2 separate regions of the Homo sapiens genome follow, and region 1 is linked to region 2. A link means that fine-mapping ties the variant in region 2 to the expression of a gene that starts in the linked region. Tissue or cell type: monocytes after R848. Region 2 holds a variant in brackets; the other region holds the start of a gene. All regions are shown on one strand. Distances are between the middles of the regions.

What was found. PIP is the estimated chance that this variant, and not a neighbour inherited with it, causes the effect.
Region 1: ODR4 starts here. The variant in region 2 is fine-mapped to the expression of ODR4 in monocytes after R848 (Quach 2016, PIP 0.95).

What each region holds. Positions count from the first base shown.
Region 1 is chr1:186,373,535-186,378,418 of GRCh38, reverse strand. ODR4 (odr-4 GPCR localization factor homolog) reads right to left here and starts at 2,581. Exons shown (of 14, transcript NM_017847.6): 1 at 2,445-2,581. It overlaps TPR (translocated promoter region, nuclear basket protein), which reads left to right and starts at 3,166. Exons shown (of 51, transcript NM_003292.3): 1 at 3,166-3,541. The coding sequence starts at 3,391. RefSeq lists enhancers at 2,552-2,741, 2,912-2,961, 3,122-3,421 and a silencer at 3,982-4,031.
Region 2 is chr1:185,474,012-185,478,895 of GRCh38, reverse strand. LOC107985239 (a long non-coding RNA gene) reads right to left here and starts at 883. Exons shown (of 3, transcript XR_001738340.2): 1 at 1-883. The variant GACACACACACACAC/C (reference allele first, on the strand shown) is at 2,754.

The DNA of each region.
Region 1 (4,884 bases), 900 kb before region 2:
AATCAGTGAGGATGAAAATGTAAAAGAGATGATATCCAAAAGAGCTATAAAACAAACAGAGACTGCAGGAACACAGTTACAGTATTTTGAACACTGCAATTTAGGAATCATCATCATTTGGATTCTGTTAAAAATGTGAATCTTATTCAGTACCACAAAGTTAAGGCTACCAGAGATATGCTGGGGTGGTATATCTGATACCAGTAAACTGTCAGTCACAAAACGGTTTTGCATTTTAAAACTAAAGCCCAGAGAATGGATTCAAGTCTGAAATGTCCTACTGGAGGCTGTTTCCTTATTGTTTCAATGAGCTTGTTCAGTTTTGTCTCAAAATACATTAATTTCTTCCTGGCTCTTTTTTTTTTTTGTTTTTTGAGATGGAGTCTTGCTCTGTTGCCCAGGCTGGAGTGCAGTGGCGCGATCTCGGCTCAATGCAAGCTCCACCTCCCAGGTTCACGCCATTCTCCTGCCTCAGCCTCCCAAGTAGCTGGGACTACAGGCACCCGCCACCACACTCGGCTAATTTTTTGTATTTTTAGTAGAGACGGGGTTTCACCGTGTTAGCCAGGATAGTCTCGATCTCCTGACCGTGTGATCTGCCTGCCTTGGCCTCCCAAAGTGCTGGGATTACAGGTGTGAGTCACCATGCCTGGCCTTCCTAGCTCTTTTTTGACAACAATAGACGTGAATCAGATTTGCATATCATTTTTTAGAGACTAAGTCTAGGAATGCTTGTCTAAATATCACTGTTGCCTCTGTGAAGTTAAGGGCTTTTACCTTTTAGTAATGCCTTAAGGTATGCAATTCTATGTATCTACTTTCCTCTATATCATATTATACTCCTTTTCCTTCTGGTCTAATAATTCTTAATTCTTGCAACAAATACAAGTAATTCTAAAGTTATATTTAACCTTTTAACCTTATTTCTTCTAGGGTGTCACCTAGTAGCCATATTAATGTGTAAGAAACTGAATGTAATAGGGAGATGAAAATCTATTCAATTATGAAATCTGATTGAATGTCAGATAAATTTTTCTTTAGTGCTCTTTCAAAATTTTTAAATGTAGTCAACCATACTTTATAAAAGGCAGTACTAAAAATGTATATAGTCAGCTTTCCACATCTGTGGTTTCCACTTCCATGTATTCAACCAACCACAGATTGAAAAATTATTTTTTTAAAGCATGATTACATCTGTATCATTAAAGATGTTTTTTCTTGTCACTATTCCCTAAACAATATAATATAACAACTATAGCATTTACATTGTATTAGGTATTATAAGTAACTTAGAGATGATTTAAGATATGCAAATGCTACACCATTTAATATAAGGAACTGGAGCATCCATGGATTTCATATCCATGGGGTGGGCAGGTGAGAGGGTCCTGGAACCAATGCCCCACGGATACCAAGGGACAACTGTATTTTGCCTTATAGGGTCATAATTTTCCAGAAATGTTGTATATCAGCCAAAGCCTTTGTGGTCCAAGCACTGTGACTGACACAACTCAACCTTTCTGGGCTCTGGTTTCCTAATCTATAAAATAAAGCATTTGAATCCTAGCAGATCTGAAAACCTATCTAATTTTAGGATTCTGTGAATCTAAGTACAGAAAAATCTACATTTCCCAAATGACAGATCAACAGTATGATAATACTGTGGGCTTAGGACATAGCATAATACTTCATATACCAGCAACTTTAATTACAATGCTTATCTAAAAAATATTTTTGGGGAAAAATCAACCTTAAGCTCCGCTGTTGATTTATTTTTCCTTAGTTATTACAAAATATCATAAAATGCTTCCATTTATATTTCTTAGACGGCTTCACAACATGATTCAAAAGTAAGAACTAGAGAAAAAGAATAAATTTCATATAAGAACTAAATCACCAATTCACAGAAGGCCCACGACTGTGGGAACTGCAGAGAGACGACACTGGGAATGCATTATTTACAATGAATAATTTAACAAATTCTTTCATAAGAGTAAACACGAAACAATCTACGGATTGAGCTTTAAAACTACAGAATTATGATCTGGAACCATACAAGTTCTGTTACTGTAGAAATTAACAATGTGTTTAAAAACTTCAGTTACAACAGTTTTCAATTTTAAAAACAATATAATGTTAGGTAACCGTTTCTGCAACGAAAAATTTAAAACATAGGCTACACTCAAAGTGCTACCGGTTTCTTTTAATTCTCCTCCTGAAGAATTAACCCGGGTCCTTAAATTCCCGGGTACTGAATCACTCAGTGCCACCTCCCCACCACCAAAAACCATTTAGGTACGCCGTTTCACACAAGGTAAGTTCGTCAGAAGTGTGTGCCGGAGTGACTGTCCATATGGTTCCAACACTGTCCCTTCCTTTTTCTCTTGAAAAGAGAGCACACACACACACACACACACACACACACTACACTTAGGCTGACTTACCTGTTTTCAGAATGTGCACTCGTGGCAGACAATTACCTCGGACGGTCTCTCCGCCGGAGATGGGGGTTTCGGGCCCAAGTACCAGCCTCTAGGGGCCAGATTCCCTCCGGTCTCAATTCACTGCCACTGAATTCATCAGAAAGCGACCTACTTCCCACACCTCACTTCCCACTCCAAAGCCAGGGACTTGGGAGTCAGGTGGCGCAGATTGATGACGTAAAAGCCCCCCCTCCCTTCCCCGCAGAGCCTCAGCCAAAGCGACTGCGGTCGCCACCCCGCCCCCTTCTGGGCGCCATAGAGAGCGTGGCGGTATCCCGGAGCCTGCCGTCCGGCCCTACCGGGACCGATGCCCTCTAGTGGCTCAGTGTCCAGAAGCCGCCAACGAGGACGATCCATGGCATCCCGGGGCTTTGACGGTAAGGTCACCAGCTCTTCAGGGAGGGCCAAGGGGTGACGAGTACGTATGTGGCGCCACCGTGCGGACAGCGGTTACGGGGCCGAGATAGGAGAGCCAGGGGAGCGGGGAGAAAAACGGAAGCTGAGAGGGCGGTGCAGCATTGGGCTCCCGGAAAAGAATGAGAAAAACACTACATTTCCCAGAGCCCTACAAGGCCTGAAGTGGGTGGAGCTGGAAGCCGGAAAATTGGGTGCGCAAGAGGATCAGGGATAGCCTCTGAGCTCGGGTTCCCAGGGTTCGTAGCTTCCAACGGCTGCGCGCGCACTTCGGTCGCGGGCGGTGAGGTGCTGTTGCTGAAACGCTGCCGCTGAGGGTGGACTCGATTTCCCAGGGTCCCGCCGCGGGAGTCTCCGGCGGGCGGGCGCGCGCGAGCCACCGAGCGAGGTGATAGAGGCGGCGGCCCAGGCGTCTGGGTCCTGCTGGTCTTCGCCTTTCTTCTCCGCTTCTACCCCGTCGGCCGCTGCCACTGGGGTCCCTGGCCCCACCGACATGGCGGCGGTGTTGCAGCAAGTCCTGGAGCGCACGGAGCTGAACAAGCTGCCCAAGTCTGTCCAGAACAAACTTGAAAAGTTCCTTGCTGATCAGCAATCCGAGATCGATGGCCTGAAGGGGCGGCATGAGAAATTTAAGGTGGAGAGCGGTAAGTGAGATGCTCTTTCCGTCCTTGGTTTTGGGCTCGACTCCCGCCCTTTGGGTCTGGTCTTCCCCCATCAAGTTGGCACTGGGTACCGCTCTGTTAACCTCACTTCCTGGGCTCTGTGGATATCCTGAGCCTTCGCTTTCCTGCTCCTTACAGTTTGATAAGAAGCCTTTGAAAAAAAAATCTGAATCTAAGTTCAGTAGCATTTTCTTTGTAGTTAGGGTAGGCTCATACAGGGACGCTTATTTTCCTTCGTCCGGCAGACGGGAAACAGACTTGATAGAGTCTGCGAACCCATCTCTCTAAGCCTAGAGTACCTTATATGTTTTGTTGCACTTCAACTGATAGTGGCTCCGCCCTATTTTCTAGGCACCTGCATTCTAGGCCTTTGCCAAATTGACCACTCTGTGCACTTGTTCTTAGTGTGTGCGTCGTCCCGTGGCTCCAGAACGAATCAGATGTTTACAAAAATGAATATTAGGTGCATAAGAGCGCTGGAAACACAGTGAATGTGCAGTACATAAATTTAATATATCTTGATTTCTCTTAAAAAGTTGGAGTTTGATAGAAAACATTAAAATTTTCTTGTAATTACCTAAAGTAGGCCTTTAAGTAAGAAAGTTACTGACAATAATGGCTTGAACATCCTTGAAAAAAATATGAAGAATATAGTCATTACCATTAGTAAAATACAAACTTCCCGTTAATGTGTTTTGGTTTACCATTTGTTTGGGGAGGTTCATACTGTTCTTGCTAAGTTGACTGGAAATTCTGAACAAGTTTTTACTTCAAAAAAAGTGTAACTGTCAAGCAGAATTGACCTTGAAAATTAGTTCTCTGATCCCAGAGCTGAGTATAGTACATTGCATTCTATTTATTAATTTGCACCATAAATATTGAATGTCTTACATGTTCCTGATACTATGCTGAACATGATATTCAATCCCTTCCCTTGGAAAGTTTACACATTTACTTTTACATATATTTAGTAGTTTTATGCTTTCAGGTAATATCTTGACTACTATAAAAGAAGTCTTTTAAAACAAAGGAGTTTTTTTTTGTCTAAACAATTTTTTCTCGTGTAATAAATACTTTATTTATTAAGCAGTTTACTGATGTCTGGAGAAAATACTAAGATAAATGAGGTTACCTGCCTTGAAGACATTGATTTGTAAAGCCCCTTTTAGGCCTTATTTTTATTTTTTATTTTTTGTCATGTAAGTCGTTTGGAAATGCTTTAAGTCCTTTTCAGTGCTCAGTCTATTTATCTTTACTCAGATTCTCTTATGTGGAGCACAATTCTAATACTGTATCTTAAGTTTTAAAATCAAGGTTATTAGAAA
Region 2 (4,884 bases):
TTTCCTTGCTGGCTGTCAGCCGGGGTGTCTATCAGCTCCGAAGGTGTCTATTCCTTCTCACTTGGTGCCCTCTCCTCAAAGCCAGCAATGGCACATCAAGTCCTTCTCACACTTGGAAACTCCCGGACTTCCTCCTCTACCAGCCCCTGAAGAAAGCACTCTGCTTTTAAAGGGGCTCGTATGATTAGATTGGGCCCACCCAGAGAATCTCCTATTTTAACTCAATTGTGCCTGCATAACAAGGGGGAGTGATGTTTCATCATATTCCCAGGTTCTGGGGATTAGGGGAGAACATCTTTGAGGGGCATTTAAGGAATCTTGCATACTACAGTGGCAGACATTGTTCCAAGTGTTTCACATTTAATAATCCATCAATCCTCATAACAACCCTGTGCGGTAGGCTCTATTATCTTCCCCATTTTATAGATGAAGCACAGAGAGACCTTACTTGCCAAGGTCTCCCAGGCAGGGCCTGGATTTCGACTCAGGCAGGCTGGCTTCAGAGCCTTACCTCTTATCCACCATTGTACATTGCTATTCAATTAACTGTTTCTGGAATTATTGAATACATGAATAATTGAATTTGGTATGGGACTTGGAGACAGTGCTAAGGATGAGTAAATTCCTTAATTTGTATGGAAAATTTTGTGCATAAATTTTCTGCTAATTGTGAAGGGAGTCTGCAGAATCTCAAAGGCATAGGTCTTAGAGAAGTGCCTATACCTGAGAAATTCCTCCAATAAAATGCCTTCCCTTTTCAGACTTCAGCTGTTAGTGAGCAACAACACTAAACACAGAATTGCAAACATCTGAGACCAATGTGGAACTGTTGCAACTGCTTTTGACACTAGATAGTCTCTGCCCTCTGTCACTTTCCTCCTTGGCCATGGCCCAGGACAAATATTGACAGTCATGAGAACAAAGCCAATATGCTAATTTGGATTCTAGGAAAACAAGAAGAAAAATTAAAAGGGTCAAAAATTGAGCCAAAACAAATGCAAGAAAGGAGAATCACCAAAAACTGAAGTCATTTCGCAAGCCTGAAATTTATTTTACGTGCTGCTGTCTCTTTCTGTGAGTCCTGTTGTCTATTGCAGGGGTGTCCAATCTTTTGGCTTCCCTGGGCCACAGTAGAAGAAGAATTGTCTTGGGCCAAACACAAAATACACTAATGATAGCTGATGAACTAAAAAATAAAAATTGCAACAAAAATCTCAAAACGTTTTAGGAAAGTTTACGAATTTGTGTTGGGCCTCATTGAAAGCTGTCCTGGGCTGCCTGAGGCCCGTGGGCCACAGGCTGGACAAGCTTGTCCTATTGCTTATCTGGGGTATAGAAGAAACAACACTGGATTGAAACTCAGAAGACTTGAGTTCCAGGCCTGGCTCTGTTTCTTATGTGATCTTAAACAAGTCACTTAATTTTCTGGATCTTATTCATCCCATTTGTAAAATACAAATAATGCCTACCTCACAGAATTTTGGAAATAATTAAATATGATAGTGAATAGGTTGTGTTCCCTTTACAAATTGTAAAGTACAATACAAATGTTACATGACATTATTGCACCAGGTGACCAAGGGACTGATGGAAGGAAGGGATAGTGCATGCAGAGCCACCTGACAAAGAGGATACTTCTCCCAGTGTGATGATCTAAAATGAACATGGGCTTAGGAAGAAAGAGAGTAACATCAAGAAGCTATAGACTACCCGCTAGTCTTCTGAACATGCATTTTGCAAAATAAAATACACTTAAAGAGTAAAAAATAGTATTGATATCTTTATGGGAAAAAATGGAGGCAAAGAAAAATCATTTGCACAAGTTGCAGAGCTGAAAGTCCATTTTGGATATGCTGACTCTCAATACAGTGCTTGAAGCCAAACTTAAATGTATCCATTCTATGTCTAAAATGTCAGAGGAAAAAAATGGTCTGCTGGTTAAGAGAAGAAATTATGTTGTCTGAATAAATACCAAGACTCAGTTGCATCAAATTAGATGGAATACCAAAATGTTCATCCTCTTAAACCTCTACAGCTAAATGGTCAGCTGTGAGTATCAAGTCATGTGATACTGATTTTCCTTAAAACAGTCATATAATCTACATCTGAGAGGACAAAACAGTTCTCATGTGCAATATCTCTCATGACACTTTGATTCTGGCCTTGTGAGACCCTGAGCAGACAGCCTAGTCAAGTCAGCTCAGACTTCTGAACTCCAGGACTATGAGGGAATCAATGGGTGTGGTTTTAAGCCAATAAATTTGTAGTAATTTGTTACACAGCAGTTTGTCTCAACACTCCTTTTTTTTCCACATAGTAATCAAAATGCTTAAAGAAAGTCACCTTGAGAGCACATTAACGTAAAAGTAATGACTACAATTCATCAGCTTCTGGCAAACTCACCATTGCTAACCAGCAAGTTCTAAAAACCCAATGGGGGAGTGTACATGGCTTAAAGACAGGCAATCCAGAGTTCTCCAGTAACATCCCAACACCAATGACATTAACATGAATATAATAATTGTTGGGCAGTTAAGCTAATCAGCCTTGCAAAAACAATTCAAGCCTACAGACTGTCTTTATTGTCTGACAGAAATACTTAAAACACATTTCCAAAACAATCTGCAACAGCAAACAAAGCAGCTCAACAAGGTGGTTGCTTTGAGTTGACTTAGAAAGGGTCCTGATAGTCATGCTTCATGGAGAACTTCCTGAGAAATGGTACCACCCCCCAACACAGACACAGACACACA[GACACACACACACAC/C]ACACACACACACACACACACACACACTCCTCCTATCCAAGGTGACCACCTCAAGGGCAGAGACTGTGCCTTAACATCTTGTAATATTATCATACCAAGTGTTATGGATATTAATAAAGTTTAATGACACTTACTACCTTCATGTTTATGGCCCTTCGAATAATAAAGTCAAAAATTTCTATAAACATCCTTAATCTATGTAGCGACTTCCACCTAAGTTTAACATTGTAGACACTTTAATACTTGTGGATGTCAGTTAAAGTAGTTTTAAAGAAGAGATAAATCAGAGAGGTTAAAAGAGTGGGGAAAGGACTACCAAAAGAAAAAGTTACTGATTTGAACTAATTGAGGGCATGGAGTTTTCATGGAAAACAGAAAGGCTTTGGGGTTAACTTCGAGGGATACAAGATGATATGGTGAAAAGAGTATGCCCTAGAGATGCAAACTCTAGGGGTGATACTCTAGGTGCATACTCTAGGTTGTCCTCACAACTCATGAGCATCTTAACCAGAGGCAAGTCCTTACCTCCCTGAGATTCAGTTTCCTCCCCTATAAAGTAACAATAATAATAAATGAGTGTGGTTGTGAGAATTCCCTAAGAGAACATAAATGGAGGGCATCACACAATGCCAAGCACACAGTTGGCGTTCAGCATATTTAAGCCATTTCTTTCTGCTCATCATGATATACAAAGATTCCATCTCCCTCTTTCTGTGCCCCATCCTCTTCAGCATTGACAAAAAATGTGACCCACCAAGTGAGCAGAGTAATATAACGATATCACTCACCAGAAAAAAAAAATAGATACTTCTCTGTACATACAAATGCCAGGAAAACGGTAAGTAAATGATGGTTTAAAACCTGGCTTTATCTCATGTACTAGTTGGGAAACTTTTGGCAAGTTATTTAACCTCTTTGTACCTCAGTTTCTTCTTCTGTAGAATGGAGATAAGAACTATGTTTATCTCATAGAGTTTGTATGAGAACTAAATGAGCCAATAGATGTAAAATACATCCTTACGACAGTGCTTAGTACAAGGTCAACACTGGTAGTCAACATTAGCTATTATTGTTAACTATTATTGTTACTCACAATAGCCTTGTATGTGCAGTACCTAAAAGAGAATGAAGAAAGAAGGCTGGTTTCTGCCATGAGGCAAAACTGCAGAAAAGGTGTGGCAGCAACAGCAGATTATGCTGCAGGAGGGAGGAGCCAGCAAACAATGGAAAAATGAGCTATGGAAAGAATGGTAATAAACACCTGTATAATGTTCATTATGTGGCAGGCACTGCTAAGTATTTTATATATATTAACTTATTCAATTCTCCTAACAATCTCTTAAGGTTTTGACTCATTTAATCCTTGAAACAAGCCTAAGAGGCAGACACAGTAATTATTCTATTTTTCAGATGAGAAAACAGAAGAACAGAGAGGTTAAATAACCTGACTGGAGTCACACAGGAAGTGGTAGAATCAGGATTTAATCACAGACAATCTGGCTCCAGTGTCTGGGCTCTGAACCACATCATTAATGTAGACTATTGGCTGCAAGGTAGACTCACTGACACACTCACCCCCTATTCCGTCAGAGATAGAAACAGGTCTGGGTTTTTTTCAGTGTGAGAAATGAGAGTTCAAGCCATTTTTTAAAGAATGGTCAAATAAAGCCAGATGACTTGAGAGCATCCAAACTAGAGACATTGTGGGGAGAGAAAAACAGGTTGAGATGGGTAGGTTGACAAGAGGATTTCCTGGAGGAATCAAATAAGTAAAATTATTAATTGTTGCAAAAATTAGTATAAAACTTATATACTATAAAATTGTATTTAATTATTTTTTAAAGTGATGGAGTACATGTAAAACTTAGTTTTCTAGCTTTGCAGCCTATAGTAGTCCGATTTCTTACTGCTATAAAGAACTGCTGGAGTCTGGGTAGTTTATAAAGGAAAGAGGTTTAATTGACTCACTGTTCAGTATGGCGGCAGGAAGGAGAATGAACATAGGAGGAACTACCAACACTTATAAAACCGTCAGATCCTGTAAGAACTCACTCACTGTCACGAGAATAGGAAAACTGCCCCCATGATTCAATTATTTCCACCTGGTCTCTCCTGTG